7 linked regions of the Homo sapiens genome follow. The protein of the gene in region 1 purifies or fractionates together with the protein of each later gene. This does not show direct contact. Each region holds a gene or a part of one and is shown in the gene's direction. Other genes may lie near its edges. The genes, in order: KRABD3, TNIP2, RMND5A, MAEA, MKLN1, CSTPP1 and ASPM.

What was found.
Region 2: the proteins of KRABD3 (region 1) and TNIP2 purify together in Homo sapiens (co-immunoprecipitation; one large-scale study listed by IntAct). This does not show direct contact.
Region 3: the proteins of KRABD3 (region 1) and RMND5A purify together in Homo sapiens (co-immunoprecipitation; one large-scale study listed by IntAct). This does not show direct contact.
Region 4: the proteins of KRABD3 (region 1) and MAEA purify together in Homo sapiens (affinity purification with mass spectrometry; one large-scale study listed by BioGRID and IntAct). This does not show direct contact.
Region 5: the proteins of KRABD3 (region 1) and MKLN1 purify together in Homo sapiens (co-immunoprecipitation; one large-scale study listed by IntAct). This does not show direct contact.
Region 6: the proteins of KRABD3 (region 1) and CSTPP1 purify together in Homo sapiens (co-immunoprecipitation; one large-scale study listed by IntAct). This does not show direct contact.
Region 7: the proteins of KRABD3 (region 1) and ASPM purify together in Homo sapiens (co-immunoprecipitation; one large-scale study listed by IntAct). This does not show direct contact.

The regions. Positions count from the first base shown.
Region 1 is NC_000007.14:149,717,951-149,721,450, forward strand, and holds part of KRABD3 (protein KRBA1), read left to right. Parts: intron 1-1,518; exon of another isoform or gene 1,519-1,595; coding exon 1,596-1,722; intron 1,723-2,057; coding exon 2,058-2,177; intron 2,178-2,884; coding exon 2,885-3,040; intron 3,041-3,429; coding exon of another isoform or gene 3,430-3,432; coding exon 3,433-3,500.
Region 2 is NC_000004.12:2,741,148-2,743,742, reverse strand, and holds the end of TNIP2 (TNFAIP3-interacting protein 2), read left to right. Parts: intron 1-1,222; coding exon 1,223-1,486; 3' UTR 1,487-2,095; downstream 2,096-2,595. UniProt on the Homo sapiens protein: Inhibits NF-kappa-B activation by blocking the interaction of RIPK1 with its downstream effector NEMO/IKBKG.
Region 3 is NC_000002.12:86,775,416-86,778,541, forward strand, and holds the end of RMND5A (E3 ubiquitin-protein transferase RMND5A), read left to right. Parts: 3' UTR 1-2,626; downstream 2,627-3,126.
Region 4 is NC_000004.12:1,296,391-1,299,890, forward strand, and holds part of MAEA (E3 ubiquitin-protein transferase MAEA), read left to right. Parts: intron 1-1,583; exon of another isoform or gene 1,584-1,725; intron 1,726-3,500.
Region 5 is NC_000007.14:131,393,876-131,397,375, forward strand, and holds part of MKLN1 (muskelin), read left to right. Parts: intron 1-3,391; coding exon 3,392-3,500. UniProt on the Homo sapiens protein: Component of the CTLH E3 ubiquitin-protein ligase complex that selectively accepts ubiquitin from UBE2H and mediates ubiquitination and subsequent proteasomal degradation of the transcription factor HBP1.
Region 6 is NC_000011.10:46,985,261-46,988,760, forward strand, and holds part of CSTPP1 (centriolar satellite-associated tubulin polyglutamylase complex regulator 1), read left to right. Parts: intron 1-1,947; coding exon 1,948-2,050; intron 2,051-3,500. UniProt on the Homo sapiens protein: Regulator of the tubulin polyglutamylase complex (TPGC) that controls cytoskeletal organization, nuclear shape, and cilium disassembly by balancing microtubule and actin assembly.
Region 7 is NC_000001.11:197,136,670-197,140,169, reverse strand, and holds part of ASPM (abnormal spindle-like microcephaly-associated protein), read left to right. Parts: intron 1-298; coding exon 299-403; intron 404-862; exon of another isoform or gene 863-1,622; intron 1,623-3,500. UniProt on the Homo sapiens protein: Involved in mitotic spindle regulation and coordination of mitotic processes.

The DNA.
Region 1 (3,500 bases):
ACCATGCCTGGCTAATTTTTGTATTTTATTAGAGATGGGGTTTCACCATGTTGGCCAGGCTGGTCTTGAACTCCTGACCTCAGGTGATCCACCCACCTGGGCCTCCCAAAGTGCTGGGATTACAGGCGTGAACCATCACACCCAGCCTGGGACAGTTTTTAGAATCACTGACTTGGGTGGGTGCAGGGGCTCACGCCTGTAATCCTAGCACTTTGGGAGACCAATGTGGGAGAACCACTTGAGCCCAGGAGTTCAAGACTGGCCTGGGCAACATAGTAAGGTCCTGTCTTTTTTAATTAATTAATTAAAATAACTGCCCTGAGCAGATGAAACAAGCGGTGAATTGTCTTTGCTTTATTAGGGGCGTGTTCATTTTCTTTAATAATTTGTTCTCACAAATAAACAGTTTAACATTCATTTCTCAACAGGAAGGACCCTTCCCATAATTTACCTTCTGTTTGCTTAATTTGCACAGTTAATTTTTGCCATAATTTTAAATTCAAGCCTATTGATGCTGGTCATTTTCTAGTGTCTGATGGCCACTTTAAAGTCCACTGAAGGACTTTTTTTTTTTTTTTTTTTTTTTGAGATGGAGTCTCGCCATATTGCCCAGACTGGAGTGCAATGGCGTGATCTCGGCTCACTGCAACCTCTGCCTTCCGAGGTCAAGCAATTCTCCTGCCTCAGCCTCCTGAGTAGCTGAGATTACAGGCGCCCACCACCACACCTAATTTTTGCATTTTTAGTAGAGACAAGGTTTCACCATATTGGCCAGCCTGGTCTCGAACTCCTGATCTCAGGTGATCTGTCTGCCTTGGCCCCCCGAAGTGCTGGGATTACAGGCGTGAGCCACCACACCCAGCCGAAGGATTATTTTGTAAAGAAACATAGACAAAAATGCTCGTGTTATTTTAAAAAGCCACAGGGTAGGAGGAGATGAGTACAGAGAATAGGAGATAGGAGTACAGGGTGTAAAGGAGCCTGGTGACCCAAAGCTTCCAAGGGCAACCCCAGGTTTCTTCTGAGCACTTCTCTAAACCCAGCACACAAACTAGGTGGACAGCAAGAATGTCTTCTCTCACAGCCCTGCAGACCCGAAGCCCTACGTCACAGTGTGGGCAGGCCACACTCCCTCTGAAGGCTCTGGGCCAGGATCCTTCTTGCCTCTTGTGGCTTCTGGTGGCCCTGGGCATTCCTTGGCTTGTGGCTGCATGACTGTAGTCTCTGCCTGTCTTCACACAGCTTTCTTCTTTTGTGTCTGTCTCTGTGTCTCTTCTGATAAGGAATGAGTCATACTGGACTAAGGGTCCCCCCTACTTAGGAGTATGACCTCATCTTAAGTAATTCCATCTGCAGGGACTCTGTTTCTAAATAAGGTCCTACTTACAGGCGTGAGGGTTAGGACTTCAGCGTGTCTCTGCAGAGACACAGCTCACCCCCAGCACTGTCTCTTGAGGGGATTCCTGCATGTCAGACCCTGGCTATTATCCTGGAGTGTGCGCCTGGAGGCCTAGGTGGGGTTACCAAGTGCAGGGACAGCTAGGCTGTCCCCTCTGGGATGGAACAACCAACCCCCCCGGAGACTGTGCCTGCAGGTGTCCATCACCTTCAAGGACTTGGCCGTGCGGTTCTCGGAGGAGGAGTGGCGGCTCCTGGAGGAGGGGCAGAGGGAGTTCTACCGAGACGTGATGCGGGAGAACTACGAGACGCTGGTCTCTGTGGGTAAGGACGGGAGGGAGCAGCACGTGTGGCAGGAGCCTGGTGGGCGGTGGAAGGGAGGCCGGAGTCCCTGGACCCGGCAGCCTTAGTCTTTCCACCTGAGAAATGAACACGGGGATCGTTCACGCTGCTGCTATTCTATGTCCCGGGACCGGGTTCTAGGTACAATTCGGTGGGGGTATGCGGCGGCCTCTGAGGTTCCGACCACTCTGCGGTTCTTTGAGTTTAAGTGGTCACATGAATGTGCACAGACCTGCAGGGGCCTGGGCTGCTATGCAACTGTGTGCGAAGCGGAGACCACTCCATTCCCAGGGCCACAGTTCCCTCTTCTTTCCCAGGGACAGCTGAGCTGCTCCCCCTCTCTGCTTTCCTGTCACCCTCAGAGCCTGGAAGAGCTGTTGGGGGAGGGAGCCACGCTGATGAGGGGCAGGAGCCTGCTGGTTGTGGAGATCCCCAGGGTAAGTTATCTGTCAGACTTTGGGTGTCTCCTCCCACTCATCGGTCCTCAGCCCCAGGCAATGCGTGACCTCAGCCTACTCAGTCCAGCCTCTCACCTCCCTGCCTCCCCTACTGCAACCTCCCAAGCTTTCACCCCTCATCCCTCTGGGCTGGAAGCCTGTTATGCAGAGAAGCACTCAGAGAAAGCCTGGGGTCACCCTGGAGAGTACCTCCTGCCTCAGGCCCCCCACCCACCACCACCCTGAAGCCTTATCACAGCCACCCCTGCAGAACCTGCTCCAGCTCCCAAAAGTCCTGCCACGAGGCTTACATCCCAAGACCTCAGATGGTGGATGTGCTCCACCGGCCCAGACTGGGCAAGGCCAGGCATTTAGGGGGTGCCAGGAAAGGCAGAGGGCCCAGATGGTGGAAGAAGTGTAGCGGCAGCCCGCCTGGGCATTCCCCTGGGAGGCATGGAGATTAATGAGTAACGTAGAACAGAGGAGCCCTGTTACCCAGGCCCCGCCCCCATGCCCTGGCTGTCCCTTGGCCAGAGCGCCTGGCCTGAGCCCAGGTCCTCTATATCTCATGGGACATGGTGTCTCCTCTGGCTGCTCCTCATGTGGCTGGGAGGATTACGTGAGATGCTGGGTGTGAAAACACGCACGTAGGTGTGAGTGCTGAGCAGCCGCAGGGGTGCGGGGGGGTCACTGTGGCCTCTCTGCAGGGGGACAGCCCCGGCACAGCCTGCACCTCACAGCCCTGGTGCAGCTGGTGAAGGAGATCCCAGAGTTCTTGTTTGGAGAAGTCAAGGGCGCTATGGACAGCCCCGAGAGCGAGAGCCGGGGAGCCAGCCTGGATGGAGAGAGAGCGAGCCCCGAGGGTAAGTCAGACAGTGGGGCAGTGCACGCAGCCTCCTCTGCACTCCGCATGATGAAGCACAAGTCCACGGCACTGCACTGCATGTGGGCTTGCAGGCACAGGCCGGGAGGCAGAGTCACCTGCTGTTCCTCGTGGCTAGGCCGTGTGCCGCCCTCTGAGCACATGCCCATAGCTGGCGAGAGGGCAGCTCTGACTTTCGCATGGTGGTTTCTGTGTGGCTTTGTCACCCTCCACCCACCATGGCCCCATTCAGAGCCCAGTGATGACAACACATAGGTGGCTGACATCCTGGTCATTGTTAGTACATGGCAAGGAAAGGACCCAGAATGTGACAGTGTGACAATGTTAGGGGCATCTTACCAGTTGTTGATTCTCCCTCTTTCCCGACAGCAGCTGCGGCAAGAGAGCCCTGCCCTCTCCGAGGCCTGCTCAGCTGCCTTCCAGACGGCCCTACCAGCCAG
Region 2 (2,595 bases), on another chromosome or scaffold:
GGAATAGCCTGGGCCCCACTCAAAGAGCTTCCTCTCCTGGCACAGACTGAACAGTAGTGATGCCTCTTGAGAATCGATGCGTCCCGGGCTGGAGCTAGGACGTCAGCCGTGTTTCAGGGTGTGAACAGGGACCCTGGGGCTGTGAGGCCACCCCCCACTGCCCTGTTCCGAGCAGCCACTGGGCCTCAGTGGTTTCTGCTTCTCCTCCGCATGAAGGGCACGGGAGAGTCATGGTGGACTATGGGACTAACCCTGGGACTAAGTCTGCAGCAGAGGGCTGGACAGGTTTTTCTGGCCTTCATGAATTCAAGGAAGCATGTGATTTGGATTGAAGGAGCACTATTGGTACAATCGTGAGGATGGTCTCAGGCCGCCTCTTGAAGATTTTGGACCAGATGAACTGGTTCCAGACTTGCAGGCCCAGATTCTTACCCCCGGGGGTAAAGTTCCTGGTGGGGCCTGCAGACCTTGTACTAAGTGGCCTCTGGTTCCCTTTCAACAGTAGCCTGTGGCCCCTCGAGGGTTGCTCAGTCCCTAGATGGCACAGCCAGGGACAGTGGTGCTGAAGGCATGGGTGATAAGCTGTAGTCCCACTGGGGAAAGTCCACATTCAGACAGGAAGTGGAAGCACCAAGGCCTGCTGGAATGAAGTTCCCAGGCAAGCAGTGAGGGCCACAGGCTGCAGTGCTTCAGGACGGATGTTTGGAGAACATGTGCCAGATCATGCCAGGTGGTTGGTGGGGCCAAGCCAGGGACACCTCTTGCTGCTACTGAAGGACCCCCTGAGCCCCAGAGTGCTCAGCACCCCCAGGCCCCACAGAGGAGGTGCAGAGTAGGGTTGGTACTCAGTTTGCCCAGCTCCCCACCAGAGGCTCTGCCACCTCCACTCTGTGGTGGCCTGTGGGCCACGTCATCAGGGCCACCTTCTCAGTCAGGTCTCCTGGGGCCGATAGGTCCAACTGAACAGGACTTCCACCAAGGGGCTGGGGGGTGGACCACGCCAGGGCCTACTTCTTCATGAGCACATGACGGAGCGTGTGTGTGATCCTCAGTCATTCACTGAGCGCCCCCTTGTCTGGGCTCTGGGGCGCAGCAGGAAGCAAAGTGAGGGGCTGAAGTTCCGCTCAGGGATAGGTGAAGTGCCTCTGGTTGCTGGAACCTGAGACCTGGCTTTGTGACCGTCAGCACAGCCCACGTATATACACCCTTGCCTTTTCTCCAGGATTCTCGAGAGCCAGACGCCGGCCGGATTCACGCTGGGAGCAAAACTGCCAAGTATTTGGCCGCCGACGCATTAGAGCTTATGGTGCCTGGTGGCTGGAGGCCTGGGACTGGGTCCCAGCAGCCAGAACCCCCTGCAGAGGGCGGGCATCCTGGCGCGGCCCAGAGAGGCCAGGGGGACCTTCAGTGCCCTCACTGCCTGCAGTGCTTCAGTGACGAGCAAGGGGAAGAGCTCCTCAGGCATGTGGCTGAGTGCTGCCAGTGACCGAGACTCACCCGTGCCCTTGCGGCCTCCTGGCCCGGTGCAGCTGCCCTCAGGGACAGGGTGGGTGCTCTCAGATGCCATGGGTTGAGCTCTACTGAGAGCCAAGGCCCCTAGAATAGTTGCGGGGCACTCTGATCGTTCACTTTGGTCCCTTTGGCTATGGAACAGGCTGGGTCACAGGGAACTGCCAGTGAGGCTGGAGGCTGGAGGTGGAGATGGGGTCAGGAACATCTGGCAGAGGGAGGTCCCAGTCTGTGTCTCCATCAGGCTTAAGCCAGAGCTATCTGGTGCTGGTGTGCCAGCCCCTCCCCCAGCCTGCCTAGAAAGGGGTGGCTGCCTGAGGGAGTCACTTGTATGGTCCCCAGGGTGGGAGCCCCATCCTGTTCTATGGAATAAAGCGTCGCCTCTCTGCCTCGAACCAGTCAAATGGAGTATTGCGGCTGCACGTCACACTAGGGTGGCCACCCCCGCCATTGCGAGCCACATGTCTGCACTGAGAAACTGCATTTCAGTAGCATTTGTCATCCAGCCGGAAGTTAAAGCACACTTACTTTATTCACCTATTTTTATAATAAACGTTCTTGCTGCTGTGACTGCTCTGAGAATTTGTGTTGGAAGCTGGGGTGCAGGGACTGAACAGTATTTACAGCAGCTGGCATGGGAAAACACTCCTGCTGTTGCCTTCTGCCAGGGCACCAAGACAAGGGGGTCAGTGGGAGCCTGGCTGTATTAGGGTTCTCTAGAGGGACAGAACTAATGGAACAGATAGATATATAAAGGGGAGTGTGTCAAGTATTAACTCACACGATCACAAGTTCCCACAATAGGCCGTCTGCAGGCTGAGGAACAAGGAGAGCCAGTCCCGAGTTCCGAAACTGAAGAACTTGGGAGTCCTATGTTCAAGGGCAGGAAGCATCCAGCACGGAGCAAGATGTAGGCTGGGAGGCCAGGCCAGTCTCTCTTTTCACGTTTTTCTGCCTGCTTTATTCTGGCCACGCTGGCAGCTGATTAGATGGTGCCCACCCCGATTGAGGGTGGATCTGCCTTCCCCAGCCCACTGACTCAAATGTTAATCTCCTTGGCAACACCCTCACAGACACACCCAGATC
Region 3 (3,126 bases), on another chromosome or scaffold:
TTAGGCTTCCTGTAAGGTTTGAATGAGACAGATGTACTCTGAAGGCTGGTGGTAAATGTGTTTGATGACCAGACTCTTCATACAGTCGGCTTGGGCCACTTTAAAGGACAAAAGCCAGAGCTCAGCTTTATCCCTCTCCCAGTGCTGGGAGCCAAAAAACTGTTGACGGTTTTTTGTGCAGCTCAAGAAAACTTTGAAAAGAACATGCTTTAACTGAAGCATTGGACTCTGCAGCTTTCTGTGTAAGGCCCGTGTACTCCCACTGGGCAGGGTGAGGACCAAAAATCTGAAACTCTTATGAATCTGACATATTATATGGAAATTATATCTTGTGACCGTCTTCAAGTGCATGGACTTAAAATTCATGAGAGACTAAATGTGAGGGAGAGGTGGATTTAAAGAGGCCAGACCTTAACCAAAGATGCTGAGATACAGCATTCTGTCCCCCCTGCCCTAGAAACTCCATAAATGCTGTCACAACCCTATCATCGCTGATGCTTTCTGCATGTCAGCAGTCCAGGAGGATGCTTTTTGTCTCTCTTTGCCTCCACTTTACAAAAGATAATATGATAGAGGCAACGTTTATAACAGTCACATTTAATTATAATGTACATCAAAGGCAGAATTTCAGAATGGTTTCTTAAATTTCCTTGGGAACCGTTTCCACATATCAGTTATAGACAAAGGCCATGGGACTATGCTAAACCAATAAAACCTTATTAGCAAATCTTTAGATTCTGACTTAGCCAGAGCATCTGAGTGTTCAAGTACAGTTTTACAGTGGCTAAGGTTGTCTCTTGATCTTTTTTCTCCGTTGTGTGATCACAGATGCTATTTCTGTTTTATTGGTGATTATACGAGACTTCTAATACATAAATGAACGGGTATTGGTGCCTCTTTATTTTAAAAAATTTGAAGAAAAGAGCCACCTCATATTCATAGGGTGTGTATTTTTTGAGTGTGAGCATTTAATTGAAAATAAGAAAGCTATGAAGTAAATGTTAACTTCTCTGTAGCAGCTAATGCATAGAGACACTAAAACCCACACCACATTTTGTGGGAAATGAGGATCCTGATCCTCTTTTGTCCTCTCCAGGTAGTCTCGCAGGTTATGCAGCTTAAGTTCAGTCTTCTTTATGCTGCGATTGATTTCCACCTCAGTGGCTTAGCCTTTGGGACAGTGGATACTGCAACAGCCAAGAACTCTTGGTTATCCGCACAAGCTGCTGGTAGACTACATTAGCCCTCTGGTTTTCCAGCTCAACCTCTGATAAAGTGGACTGAGAGCCACGCTGCTCAGTCTGTTTCGTCAGCCGACTCAGGTTATTTTCAGGGAAGGCATGGAGGCATAGTTTGGTTAGTTTCATCACTAGGATGTATAAGGTGACGACACAAACCAAATACCTTTCTTTCATCACTTAACTATACGTACTTTATCTCTGGTAACACTAGAATGCTGTGGTCTTGAGGGAATGTTAGCAAGGAACACATAGAAGATTTGGTGTTTCATAAGCCTGTCTAGGTGTGGCAGGTTTTGTGTGGTACACTGATGTTTACCATAAGCAGGTACAAGCTTCATGAACCGTTCTTAATGAACTATAATTGAATAGATACCAAAAATAGAATGACAAATGTATTTTAATAGCAGATGAGGCAGTTTTAGGATGAATTTTCCACTGTTGATTTTACTTCAAGACATAGCAAGAGAAACAAAATTTTGTTTTCAAGACATTTCCACTGCAGTTTCAAGCTGTAGTGGGCATATGCTTCATTTACTTCCAAAGAGGCAAAAGCAGCTGGAATTGGCTTACAGCACATGCTTTGTTTCATGTTATGGGTGAGGACCTACATACACTCTTACTTTAGCAGTCACTTAACCTTCTCCAGCAAGGCAGTTGTGGGGTTCACTAGGATTTAGTGCCTGATCTTTTTTTTGGGAAGGGGCGGGAATGAATGTGTTGGGGCTGGGAGGGAAGCAGAAGAAAATGGGAGTGTGAGTGAGTGTGCATGTGTCTGAAGTTCACCATTGCCCCCACCTGCACCTAGCAAGGAACAGGTGTTTGATGTATTTTGCTCATGACTGCAGTATGCATGTATTTTTTTCCTTCTCTGTGTTTTCTAAACTTACACTAAAGGATTCATCAAATCATCTTGTTCAGATGGCTCAGGATTGTATTTATTTTGCTTACCCCGTGCTCTTGGGTTCTATAGTATTTCTATAATTATGTAACGAGAATAGTGTTGCACTGTAATCTATCATATAGAGCTATATGTATGGAAAATTTTGATCAATTTTTTAAGAAATGTATCCTGTTTGCAAAGGCACAGTAAAGTTGCATCTTATAGACTATAGGCAATAAAGCTAACAATAAACCTTATTTAACACAAACCACATCCATATCCTCTGTTCATTTGATTTTGGAAAAAGTAGCATATCCAGTAGTTTCAGGGAATTCATTTTAACTTTAAGAATTCTGATATATTTAATTTATAAATTTCGGACTGATATAATAGAGTTTTGGAAAACTATAAGAAATGCTTTGTTAATGTGTGTATTCCTATGTAAAACACATGGCTTTTCCTGTGTATATTTTTAAAAATTAAAGAAATGCACATTTAAAAAGTGTTTTGTGGAACCAGTCTGTATAAATGTGCCAGGTGACAAAGGTATGAGGGAGGGAGTAGGGAGGTGCTGACTGTGAGAAGAGAAAATTGCTGTCTGTATTTGCTAAGGGTCTGCATGTCAAGAATTTAAGAAAATATCTGTCCCCATCTTACTGTGTTTCTGTGCCACCAACAGTGAGAAGAGAAGGTGACTGAGCAGTGTCCCGAGTTGTTTTTTGTTGTTGTTTTGAGACAGACTCTCACTCTGTTGCCTGGGCTGGAGTGCAGTAGCCCAATCTCGGCTCACTGCAACCTCCACCTCCTGGGTCCAAGCGATTCTCGTGCCTCAGCCTCCCGGGTAGCTGGGATTACAGGCATGTGCCACCATGCCCAGCTAATTTTTTTTTATTTTTAGTAGACAGTGTTTCACCATGTTGGCCAGGCTGGTCTCGAACTCCTGACCCTCAAGTGATCTGCCCACCTCAGCCTCCCAAAGTGCTGGGATTACAGGCGTGAGCCACT
Region 4 (3,500 bases), on another chromosome or scaffold:
CGTCACCCATGCCATTCCTCACCTGTACCCCTCACCCATGCCTGTGCCGTTCCTCACCCGTGCCTGTGCCCCCCTCACCCGTGCCTGTGCCTCCCTCACTTGCGCTGTGCCCCCCTCACCTGTGCTGTGCCCTTTGCCTTGTGGCTGCTCCTGCACTTGGTTCTCTCTCTGTTGGTCGGTTTTCCCATTGGCTGTGCAGCTCCCTGGTGTGCACGTGGCTCTGAGTCTTCCTCTCGTGAAAACCCCTTCCTTGCCCCCGTCCTCCTCCAGCTACTACTCCCTGTCTCTGCCCCTTCATGTCTCTCTTCCTGTTTTACCTAAATCAGATTTTTGCCCCCCAACACTCCACCCAGATGTTCCTCTTGAGGACAGGATGATGCTCCTGAAAGCGGTCAGTCCACAGCGGACCCCACTGCCTCGAGACGCTCCCATCACTCGGCTCCCGTGACACCATCCTCTGGGCTCTCCCCACCCCTCGCTGCATGTCCTCACTTGCCTATGCTGTCTTCTCTAGTCTTGGAGGCCTTTTGTTTTATGTCACCAGCCAGCCCTCCAGAGGTTGTGTGGCTTCACAGACGGTCTCCAAGCTCCTGTCCCCACACTGCTGCCCTCCCCAGGCCTCTCTCCCTGAGGCCATCCCGTGTAGTCACCTCCCGGAGCTCTCTTCGCATGTCTGGAAGGCAGTTCAAAGATACGATACCAGGCGCAAAACCAAATGCCGCATCTCGGCCTTGGGGCCCCAGACGAGCCCCAGACCTGCCTTACTAAGCCACCCTTCCCAAGTCAGTTGACAGCGATGTCCCCCGGCACTTGTTCAGTGACAGCCGAGAACTCGGAGGTTTTCTCGATTTCTGTTTCTCACGTTTATCCTTGAGTCCACGATGGCTGCTGGGGCTGCGGCCTTCGCGGCCAGGAGGAGGGTAAGGGGGAATCAGTGCCGCCCTGCGTGGCCAGCTCCCTGCGTGGGGGCCTTAGTGGACATCCTCCCAAGCGTTTACACTTCAGCTCATTCCCCAGAGCACGGGGCTGGCCATTTCTAGCTTTGGAGGAGCCTGAAAAAGTACGTGCGTATGTGTGTGTGTATACATACATATAGAGAGAGAGCACGCGCTTGAGTGTGGGCTCATTGCTGCCCTAAATAAAATTAGGATGTGGTTCCTTTTGCCCTTTGTCCCTTGCCTGCCTGGTTTCCTTTGCAGCACTCGTCACAGTCTGACGCGGTCGCCTGCATCTCTCTGTGCTTTGGTTGGGCGTCTCCTTTAGAGCGTCTGCTCTGCGAGGGCACGGGCCGTCCTTTGTCGTCGTTCACGTCACACCCACGAGTGCCTGGCACAGGAGTCAGTCAATGGCTGTTGGCCGAACCAATTTCTCCCCCGTCTGTCTGGGAAATTCCTAAACTTCGCATCTCACTTTTGTCCACTTGCCGCATTCTAGAGTATGTCTTGGTCTCATGGCCTGTGCTCTCATCTGGCTGTGGTCAGCCTCTTGCGTTTCCTTTCTCCCTTGCCTCCACCCCTCGCGATGTAGCCCCATCCCCTGCCCTTCTCTGCTTCCCATTGTTCTAGAACATTCCAGCATGGAAACCCCGCTGTGCAAGGCCCCTGCACTGGCCACAGAAGCCGCACCTATCTGCTGAGGAACCCGGTTGCTGCCTGGAGTGGGTGTCGAGTACTGCCTGGCAGCATAGCCATGCTTCTTGAGGCATTTTAGCACCCTGTACCCCAGGTACTGTTCCATATGCCCCTCCTTCTCCATGAGCCCCCCATGCCTGCCCCGTCCTTGTGCTCTGCCCGCGGCTTGGCCCTGTCTGTCGCCTGCCTGCTTGTGCTCACTGTTTCCTTTCTTTTACTGGAGATATGTCATTTGTGCCCCGCCCAAGGCCAGCCTTTGTTCATGCACCAGACCCCCTGCCCCATCCCTGTGACCTGAAGAGGCATGTGCCGTCTTCTGGTTATCCACGAAGAGGCACACGCGCCGTCTTCTGGTTATCCACGAAGAGGCACACGCGCCGTCTTCTGGTTATCCACGAAGAGGCACACGCGCCGTCTTCTGGTTAACTGTGTGCGGGACCCACAGGTCCCCTCTGTCTGAGCCAGCCCTGCCTTGGGGTCTCTGGAATTGCTTCTCATCTGGTTTTACCCCCATCACAGTGCTATAGTCAGGGCACCAGGTAACCCCAAGACACTGCTGAGACCCATGATGGATTCTTGCTGCCCATCTCGACCTCTCACAGGGCTGGAACACAGCTCACCCCCTCGGGCTCCTAGAGCGCCATCCTCGCGTTTCCCCCCGGGCTCAGTCCTTGGCCCTGGGTGTTGCTGTGAGCACCGCTGCCTTGGTGCTCTCACAGGGTCTAGTGGACTGATAGGACCCTCTGTGTATACTGATGACTCCCAGGCAGGTATCTTCCCAACCCCAGAGCCCTGTATCCAGTAGCCTGTAAAACATACCCACTTGGCAAGGCACTTTGGCATTAAAATTATTATTATTAAAATTATTATTATTTTTAGAGATGGGATCTCACTCTGGCACCCAGGCGGGAGTGCAGTGGCATGATCACAGCTCACTTCAGCCTTGACCTCCTGGGCTCAGGTGATCTTCCTGCCTCAGCCTCCCGGGTAACTGGGACCACGGGCGCCTGCTTCCGTGTCTGGCTAATTTTTTTATTTGTAGAGATAGGTTCTAGCTCCGTTGTCTAGGCTGGTCTCCATCTCTTGGGCTCAAGCATTCCTCCCTCCTGGGCGTCCAAAAGTGTTGGAATAACAGGTGTGAGCCACCATGCCCAGCTCCTTGGCATATTTAGATCTGAGCTTATCATCTTAACACCTGCTGCCCAAACCAATTCTACCAGTCTCCCTTCTCTTCGGGAAGGGCAGCCCCTCCATCTCCCTTGGTCAGGCCAGAACCTTCAGGTTGGCCTTGATGCCTCTGTTGTCACAGCTCATGCCCAGCCCGTCTGCCCCTCCACCCTGGCGTCAGGACATGCCCAGGCCCAGCTGCTGCTGCTCTTCCCACCTCTGCCCCTGCGGCTCAAGTCGCATCTCTCTCTGGAATATTGAATAGCCTTCTGGCTGCTCCTGCTCTGCTCATGCCCACCCCGGCTGCCCCAGCGCCAGATCCTGTCGTCTTTTTGTTCTAGGAGTTTCCTGACCTGGGGATGAAGGCCAGGGTCGTTACAGTGGCTCCCAGGCCCTTTGCCCTGTAGGGTGCTGGGCCCAGTGGCCTTTCTGCCGCCATTCAGCCAGGCCAGCATGCCGAGCCCAGGGTTTTACTGCCACCTTCCTCTGTCTGGAGCGCTCCTTCCACAGATGTCCATGGTCCCATGTCCTCACCTTCAATCTTTGCCAACGTCCGTGGTCCCATGTCCTCACCTCCTTCAATCTTCGCTGAGCTGTCAGCTTGTGAAGCTTCTCTGACTCCACTGTTGAAACTGCAGCCCCAGCATCTCCCACTTCTGCCCTTTTCCCTCGTGAGTCGTGACCGCTGTCTCACATAACGGT
Region 5 (3,500 bases), about 18 Mb from region 1:
TCTGCCTCCCAAAGTGTTGGGATTACAGACATGAGCCACTGCACCAGGACCAATAAATGAATTCTTAATGAGACTTGGACCTGGAAATCTCTAATATTTTATGTCTGGTGACATATATAGACTATATTCTTGGTGCTTTTAGTTTAGAATCATTATTTTATTCTGACTCTTATACTACTAGATGGTTATTGCTATGTGATTTAGTAGATAAACTTTTAAATGACACTGCTACATAAAGAAACACTAAAACAATAAAGATAATTTAATATTTGTTGTTAAAAAAAAACTTTTTGAAATGTGTGTTGTTTACATACATAAACAGAAAGGCATATTAAATATCCCAGCATTCCTTCATACATCCTTATGGCTGGTTGCTACTGCCTGTGTTTTTATTCACACAGCTTCCTTTATATCAGTGGTCCCCAACCTTTTTGACACCAGCGACCAGTTTTGTGGAAGACAGTTTTTCTGTGGACCCAGAAGTTGGGGCAGGGTATGGTGGAGAGATGGTTTTGGGATGAAACTTTTCCATCTCAGATCATCAAGCATTAGATTCTCATAAGGAGTGCACAACTTAGATCCCTTGTATTTGCAGTTCATGATAGAGTTTGCAGTCCTTTGAGAATCTAATGCCAACGCTGATCTGACAGGAGGCAGAGCCCAGGCAGTAATGCTCCCTTAACACACTGCGCACCTCCTGCCATGCGTCTGGGTTCCTAACAGGCCAGGGACCTGTACAGGTTTGGGCCTGGGGGTTTGGGACCCCTGTTTTAGATGACAAAAATATATAAAAGTATCATACCCCATACATTTTCCTTATTCAGTCGGATATTGGAAATCATTACGCCTGGTATCAGCTATTCTGGATATTCTATTTTGATGCTTCATCAAAACTCTACAAATGTTAGTTTCTTAAAGATAGTTGCATTATTGATTCTGAAACTGCATCAGTGAATCTGTTGTTACATTAAAATTCACTGGTCTATCTTGGACTTTTTACCCAGTGGTCTGTCTTGGACTTTTTACCCAGGTGTGATTTTGTAACATTCATTGGTTATTTAGAAAATATGGTTCACTGAATTACACAGATCTCCCAAATGTTGAAACACTTCATTATGTAATATTTTAAAAATCACATTTATTAATATCACATCTAATCTCATTTAAAAAAATCTAAGTGTTGGGAATCAGTTAAGCTCACAGTGGTGGGTACTTATCTTCCAAAATTCTAATTTTTCTCTTGAAAGCTTGGTTTTTATCCTTGACAGCAAATATCGTTAAGTATTTTCCTTGAAATAACATGTAAATGTTTGGCAAATACCCAAATCTGAATAATCATAGGTTGTCTGTTTTTCTTTCAAGAATAAAATGGCATTCCATGAAAAATAAATTGATTTTTAAACTCACAACTTAAATAATTGTACAGGTCCTTTCCTTGAGATAACCATTGTGGTTTGGTACACAACAAAAATGCTTTATATGCAAATCTCATTTTGTCACACAGGATACTAGACAGATGTGTACTTGATGGGAATTTAATAAAATTAATTTTTCTGTGCCATTGGTAAAAATTATTTTTATTTTATTTTATTTTATTTTATTTTATTTTATTTTATTTTATTTTACTGCCAGTGTATGGTGGTGAGGCATACAGTGCACCTTGTACTTACTGAGCACTAATAGTACTTTTTGGTGCCATTAGTTTGGTACCAAGGTGCTAGCAGTTTTACACACCATTGCTTTTGTACCATTAGTGCAATGTTGCTATTATTAAAAGGCTAGAAAAGTGTTTATTATGTTATTTTGAAAAATAGTTGTTTTGAAAAATAACTAGTGTTGTTATTAAAAAAAAAAGTAGTTTTGACTACGTGGGACCTCTGGAAAGACCATTGGGATTTTGATTGACATGATGTTAAATTTATAATTAATTGGAGAGAGCTACACATTTACAATATTGAGTTTTCCTATATAGGAACATAGTATGTTCTTTCATTTATTCAATTATTCACTAAAATTTTATATTTTCTTATAAATATTGCGTATTTTAAGTTTATTCTGAAGTATTTTCAGCTTTTTGCCATTATAAATAGGACTTTTTTGAGGTATATTTTCTAATTGGTTATTGTAGGTATAGGAAAAGTTGATTTTTGTGTGTTTACCTTGTTTACAAATAAAAAGTTTTTCAATTGAATATATATATATATTTTTTTCCACTGAGACACAGTCTTATTCTGTCGCCCAGGCTGGAGTACAGTGGTGTCATGGCAGCTCACTGCAACCTCCACCTCCTGGGTTCAAGTGATTCTCTTGCCACAGCCTCCCAAGTAGCTGGGATTATAGGCGCACGCCACCATGACTGGCTATTTTTTCTATTTTTAGTGGAGACAGAGTTTCACTGTGTTTGCCAGGCTGGTTTTGAATTCCTGGCCTCAAGTGATCCTCTTGCCACGGCCTCCCAAAGTGCTGGGATTACAGGCTTGAGCTACTGCTCCTGGCTCTCTTGAATTTTTTTAGGTAGACAGGTCATCTTTAAATTACAATTCGTTTTTCTTAATTTGTTTGTTTGTTTCCTTATTGCACTGGTTGAGACCTCTAATTAGTGACAAATAGTAGAGATATTGGACATCTTTGTCTTGTTCTGACTTGAGTGGGAATATTTAGTATTTTCCCAGTAGGTTTAATTTTTAAGGTTTTTGATGCTTTTTAAAAAAATCTAAGGAAATTTTTTATTGCCTTATATTGCTTATATATTGAGGGTTTAAAAATAATAATGTATTTAAGTCATCAAATGTGTTTTTTCTTTTATTTTGTTAACGTGGTAGATTATATTAATATAGCTCCTATTATTTATTGAACCATCATCTTTCCATTCCTGGAATGAGATCTGTTTGGTTACAATGAAAATCTGATAGAATTTTTTGCAACTTTTCTCCTTTTAATTTGTATTTAAATATGTATTCATAGCTGTGATTGGCCTTAAGTCTTTTTTCTTCTGATTTGGATTTCAGGGTTGTGCCACTGATAAATAATTTCAGTCTCTTTCAGTGTTCTGATGTAGACTAAATTCTAAAGTAATTTTTTGCTGCTTGTACATTTGATAAAATTTACCTGTTAAATCATCTAATTCTGGTGGCATTTATTTGGGGGTAGACATGTGCACATTTTTAATTTATCTTACAGTGTTTTTATTAACTAAGGAAATCTTATGGTGGCATGGGTCATCTGTTTCGTTTTACTGTTGTAGCCTTAGCACCATGCTAGTCATATAAAAGATGCCCAGAAAATTCGTTGAATGAATCCTTATAAGGTTGAATAGTGCTTTTACTTTGCTAAAGTTTTATTTGAACTGTGTTAATATTTTTCTTCTTCTTTTTGTTTTTTCTCCTTAAAGTTCCACTCTTGTCCTGGGGACCCAGCTTTAACTTTAGCATCTGGTATGTTGAACTTAGTGGCATTGATGATCCTGATATAGTACAACCTTGTCTCAACTGGTATAGCAA
Region 6 (3,500 bases), on another chromosome or scaffold:
AAGACTTTTGGGCTCAGGTTGGCAGGTAAACTTACTTGTTTTATGAGCTTCACTAGACTACCAGGACTTCAGAAATAGTTTTTTGAAATACCAATATTTATAAATTTTAGGTAATTCCATCATATTTTCCTGAGGAATGAAACTGTGAAAGAAGTAAATGTCTACTTTGGCAGCAACTTCATAGAATTGCTTTTTGGAAGGATATTCATCACTTTGGGGTTTTTTGTTCTCACTGCTCCAGATGAAAGTATTTTTCTGAATTTTTTATGGTAAATGTGGACACTGAATTGGAAGCTTCTATGTAAAGTTTGTCAGGAAACCTCTGTCATACCTAAGGATAAAATTCAGAGAAAGGGAAGAAGTATTTGAGTACCTGACATCTAAGAAGTTCTGGCCTATGTTGTTTACTGAGTAAACTCCCAATAATGCTTTGAGACAGGCTTTTAAGGAAACATGTTATCAATCACGTACTATGTACCAAACACATAGTGGTGTTTTACCTGTATTATCTTATTTATTTCTCATAACCCTATAATGTAAGTACCATTATTATCCCCATTTTACCATGAAGAATAGGCTTGAAGAATAATTTGTTTATGGTCACATAACTAGGAAGTGGCAGAGCTGAGAATGGAGCTCTCAACTCTCTGTAATCCAAAGCCCAGGTTCTTAACCAGTGATTCTTAAACTTAAGAGTACATAAGAAGCATCAGGAGTACTTGTTAAAAATTACTGGGCTGTAGTAAAAAATGTAAGGTCACTAAATCTGGGACAGTGCCAGACTATAAATCTGCGTTTTAAACGGCATCCCAGGGGATTCAGATCAAGAAATTGATTGACCATATTTTGAGAAACATAGTTAAATTATATTGCTTTTCACACTTGATAAAGAAGAAAACAGGTGTAGACTAAGTAACTATCCAAGATTAAGCTACCAAGACAGAGCCATGATTCAAACTCAGGTCTGTCTCACTCTAATACTCATACTTTTTATTATACGCCCATGATTAACTCACACATTTCCAAGTCACAACAAATGCAGAAAACATGACATCTAATAAACCAAGCCAGATAGATTTCATGGTCTTGTTATTTACCAAAGTTAATAACTTATATATACACCAGTACGAAAATTTTCATGGTCCTTAAACCTTTCCAGTGACTTTTTTTTTTTTTTTCTAATTTAAATTAACTGAGTTTTCTTTTTTTTCTGTTCTGAAATGAAGTCTGGCTCTGTCGCCCAGGCTGGAGTGCAATGGCATGATCTTGGCTCACTGCAACCTCCACCTCCCAGGTTCAAGCAATTCCCCTGCCGCAGCTTCCTGAGTAGCTGGGATTACTAGCTACTCAGGAAGTAGCCACTGCATCTGGCTAATTTTTGTATTATTGGTAGAGACAGGTTTTCACCATGTTGCCAAGCTGGTCTCGAACTCCTGACCTCAAGTGATCCACCCGCCTCAGCCTCCCAAAATGCTGGGATTACAGGCCTGAGCCACTGTGCCTGGCCAGAGTTTTCTTTACAATCATACCATCCATGCTTCAAGCATGGAATTACTAACTCCCTGGGATAAGTTTCTGATGCAGAAATGGAAAAGAATAGAAGGAGGTAGAAAGAAAAGAACTTCCAGGTGTATCTGCTGAATGGTGCTAAATCTCCTCTTCAACCCACCCTTGTGATTGAGATGAAGAATGAAGGGTTGATGCTAATACTAACAGCCAGTCAAATGGCAATTGGTCATGTTCACATCATCTCCCAATCTATCCTTTGAGACTATAGCTCAGTTAGGGTCAGCAAGTTTGCTTTGCCTATTCCAGTCCACTGATGAAGTGTCATCAGACAGAGCCAACACCTGGATTGCCTTACACATGACCTCCTACTAGGATTGGGATCATTCTTTTTAAAATCTTTCTCTCATTTTCTCTTTCTCTCTTGCTATTTGATTGCAGCTCAGCGACATGTCCTCACCTACATGGAGGATGCAGTGTGCCAGCTGCTAGAAAACAGGGAAGATATTAGCCAATATGGAATTGCCAGGTTCTTCACTGAATAGTAAGTACATGAATGTTGTACTAATACAGTGAACCCAGAGGAGGCGCTTGGAAGCAGGCAGGATACTTGAGGAACAGAGCAGGACAATGCTGATTAGGTAGTGGCAGTGAATGTTTAGTTTTGGTAGGTTGGTTGTGGGCCGCCCAAACATGTTTTGGAGCATGCCTTTGGTGCAGCTAGTTTGTCCAGTGATGTCTCATGAATAGTTTTGATTACAGTAGCTTAACAACTGCTTGTTTGATCTATTAGATCTATTTCTGTAGGTTTCTCTTTTAACTTTCTCCTTTATTCAAAATATTCACTTTGATTTCCTTTCGCTGATGTTCATCTAGCCTGTTTTTTTTCATGGCTGGCTTTTCTCATGGAATCTAGGCTAATGTTCCTCTGCAGTTTTCTTTCTACAGGATGCTGTGCCAATCACTTAATGATTTAAGTGTATTTCTAATCAGCAAAGTGAAGAGACAACCCACAGAATGGGAGAAAGTATTTGCAAACTACCCATCTGACAAGGGATTAATAACCAGAATATATAAGGAGCTCAAATATCTCTATAGGAAAACATCCAATAATCCCATCAAAAAATGGACAAAAGATGTGCATAGACACTTCTCAAAACAAGACATACAAATGGCAAACAGGCATAAGCAAAGGTGCTCAACATCATTGATCATCAGAGAAATGCAAATCAAAACTACAATGAGATAACATCTCACCCCAGTTACAATGGCTTGTATCCTAAAGACAGGCAATAACAAATGCTGGCGAGGATGTGGAGAAAGGGAACCCTTCTACACTGTTGATGGGGATGTAAATTAGTATAACCACTGTGGAGAACAGTTTGGAGGTTCCTCAAAAAACTAGGAATAGGGCTGCCATATGATCCAGCAATTCAACTGCTGGGTATATACCCAAAAGAAAGGAAATTAGTGTATCGAATAAATATCAGTACTCCTATGTTTGTTACAGCACTGTTTAGAGTACTAAGATTTGGAAGCAATCTAAGTGTCCATCAACAGATGAATGGGTAAAGAAAATGTGGTACATATACACAATGGAGTATTATTTGGCCCTAAGAAAGAATGAGATCCTGTCATTTGCAACAACATGAATGGAACTGAAGATCATTATGTTAAGTGAAATAAGCCAGGCACAGAAAGACAAACATTGGATGTTCTCACTTGTTTGTGGGATGTAAAAATCAAAACAATTAAACTCATGGACAAAGAGAATAGAAGGATGGTTACCAGAGATTGGGAAGGGTAGCAGGGGGCTGGGGGAAGAGGTGGGGATGGTTGATGGTTACAAAAAAGAAAAAAAAGAATGAAAAAGACCTGCTATTTGATAGCACAACAGGGTGACTCTAGTCAATGATAACTTAATTGTTCATTTTAAAATAACTCAAAGGGTACATTTAGATTGTTTGTAACACAAAGGAAAAATGCTTGATGGG
Region 7 (3,500 bases), on another chromosome or scaffold:
TGCATATTCTCAGCACCTCGTAGAGAGTCTGGAATATACAGACACAATAAGTTTTGGTTGAATCTAGACTTTAGCCTCTGTAAACACAAAATAAATTGTGGTTTATGGTCTGTGACTTCTGGATGTTGGTTTGATAAACCACTGAATTCATAGCATTAGTGCGTGGAGTACAGTGGTTATTAAGTGTTTGCTAAATGAATATGATTGTGAAGAACCCAAACTTTAACTTTCAAATCACTGACCTATTTAGGGAATTTGTATTTTAATGCTCTTAGTTTTGTTTTCTAATTTATTTTAGATTTATCAATATTCAGAACTCCAATTTCTAAAACAAACAAAAGGACAAAACCCATTATCGCTGTGGCACAGTCCAGTTTGACCTTCATAAAACCATTAAAAACAGGCAAGTATTTATTATACTTAAACTCTCTGAAAACATGACATCGAATGAAGCATTAATTGCATTTCACATGGAAATGAATTGATTTTTGTTGTTGAATAACAGCCTGGAAGAATTGTTAAAGTGTGTATTAAAATGACAGGATATTGTGTCAACTTTCTGTTTGATAAAAGAAATAAAGACCAAATGTTCAATAGATCAGTAGGGTCACTATAGTAATTATTGTATATTTCAAAATAGCTAGAAGAGAATAACTGATGTTTCTAGCATAAAGAAAAGACAGATATTTGGACTGCGGGCACCCACGACCATGCCCGGCTAATTTTTTTGTATTTTTAGTGGAGACGGGGTTTCACCGTGTTGGCCGGGGTGGTCGGGCAATCTCCTGACCTCGTGATCCCTCCCCTCGCCTCCCAGGGTGCTGGGATTTCAGGCGTGAGCCACCGCGCCCGGCCAAAAACATGGGCTGTTATCCTTTGCTGTGGTAGGGAGTATGGATGAAGTGAAAGTTGGTAAAAGGATGGTCAGAGGCCGTCACTAGCCTTGGGGAGTTTTCCAAGTGGAAAATGAAAATCACTGTGACTTCGTTAAGCTCCAAGATATGCTTCTTTGTACCAATGTGGAAAATCTAAAAGAAAAACCTACACTCAGCACTATGAATGCTGTAGGTACCAAAAACTGCAGAAAATGGGCTTTACAGATCTGGGCCCAGACAACCAGCCAGTTAGTTTTCAAGAAATCTTTGAAGCCAAAAGACAAGAGTGCTATGATCAATGTCAGAGAGAAGAAGAGTTGAAACAGATTTATGCAGCGAGTCAAGGAGAAAGAAGCTGAAAAAGAGCTGCAGGACAAGTTCAAGCATCTTAAAATGATTCAACAGGAGGAGATAAGGAAGCTCGAAGAAGAGAAAAAACAACTGGAAGGAGAAATAATAGATTTTTTATAAAATGAAGGCTGCTTCTGAGGCACTGCAGACTCAGCTGAGCACCAATACAAAGAAAGACAAACATCGTAAGAAATAATCGTTTCTCTTAATTTTCTGTTTGAGAGCCCTATCATTCACATCCCAGCTTCCTGTGATTGTATTTGTAGCATTTAAATCTGATTGAAGTTCTTATTTTAAAAATTGGCTTGCTTATTGTATATTTTCCCTAACTAAAGTGTGAACTCCTAGTGGGGCGTGGTGGCTCATGCCTGTGATCCCAGCACTTTGGGAGGCTGAGGCAGGTGGACCATCTGAGGTCAGGAGTTCAAGACCAGCCTGACCAGGATGATGAGGCCCTGTCTCTGCTGGGAATACAAGAGTTGGCTGGGCTTGGTGGCCGGTACCTGTGGTCCCAGCTGCTTGGGAGGCTGGGAGAGTCACTTGGGCCCCAGAGGTGGAGGTTGCAGCGAGCCAGGTTCTTGCCATTGCACTCCAGCCTGGGCGACAAGGGCGGGACTCCATCTCAAGAAATAAAAAGGTGTGAACTCCCTGAAGACAGGTCCTGTGTCCATCTTTTCAGATTCTGTATCCTGGCACTTAGGATGTAGACTAACACGAAGATGACATTCAATCAATATTTGCCAAAATGAAAAAATAAACATGTAACATCATGTTAAAGGAGCAGTTTAGGTGGAGAAATTTCTTTACCATAGTCCTGCTTGTGGATCCAGTAGTGACTTTTACATTTTATATCTAAATAGAAGCTTGAGGCTTTGTTGGGGACTCATAGGCATAAAATATTATGTTATACAAATCTAATTAATAGGCCTATTTTCCTTTTTAAATTCTAATAATTTCTTGATAGTTTTTATTATGATAAAAGATTGGATTTTGATTAGAACTCTCATGCTTTTATGTCAGACTTAAAACTGATATTAGAATAAAGAATTCAAAAGCTAGAGAAAATCAGAGTACAATGAGAAGCCATGAGTTGCATTTGAATGATAATATTATGTCTTACAGATTTGGGGTATACGCTAAAGTTATCAAAGTTGTAAAAATAAGGCTGGGTGCAGTGGCTTACACCTGTGGTCCCAGCACTTTGGGAGGCCAAAGTGGGCGGATCACTTGAGGTCAGGAGTTTGTGACCTGCCCGGCTGGCATGGTGAAACCCCATCCCTACTGATAATGCAGAAGTTGGCTGGGCATGATGGTGTGCACCTGTAGTCCCTGCTACTCGAAAGGCTGAGGCGGGAGAGTCGCTTATACCCAGGAGGCAGAGGTGCAGTGAACAGAGATTGTGCCACTGCACTCCAGCATGAGTGACAGAGCGCTATGAGTCACTACACCTGGTATGAGCCACCATGCCCGGCCTACGATGACTTTTATACATGTTGTTAAATCATCTTACAGATTTTATAATTTGGGGGAAGAAAAATTTTACTAAATGGTCTTTTAATGGAAACTACAAGAACCAGAATCTTTGCTTTGTTCACTTAAGTGTCCATTCCTAGGCCTAGAACAATGTCTGACACATAGCGGCAATTATTCCTTGAATAAATGGACCCAGCAATAGTACATTAGCTATGCTATATGCATAAATTAAAAATGTAGATTATTGACTTTCAAAAAATAATTAATGTGACTTCTTACTGCTTCTGAACATGTTTGTGAGTTATATTGCTGAGGGACCTTTATCTTCTCATTCTTTCATCTTAATCCAATGTTATTAAAATTGAAATCACCAATATTATTCCATATCTAAAAATAATATCTACCTTATAAAAATTATCACTCTGCTGCATTTGAGAATAGACTTTTTAGGTAATAATAGTATGATCCATAGGGTTTTTTTAGGGCACAGAAGGATTCATGCTAACAGAACATTTTATTTTCTATTTTCCCAGAGCTATAAAACATGATATTATATGATAACTATAAGGCATATTTTTACTCTGTTCATATTTTTTCTAAAAAAAATTAGTGTTTGTTTCCCATATAACTTTTAATTTTATAAGTAAATATTTGTCTCTTTCAGCTCCAGTTTTATGTGAAATAGAGTTTCCAGATTTATGTAGCATGGAGAGTTTTAATAAGTCAGAGTTACTGATTTTTGCCAGTCATTTTCTCAGTTGTTAACTTCTTTTATCTTTAGTTGATTTTTTTTGTAGTGAC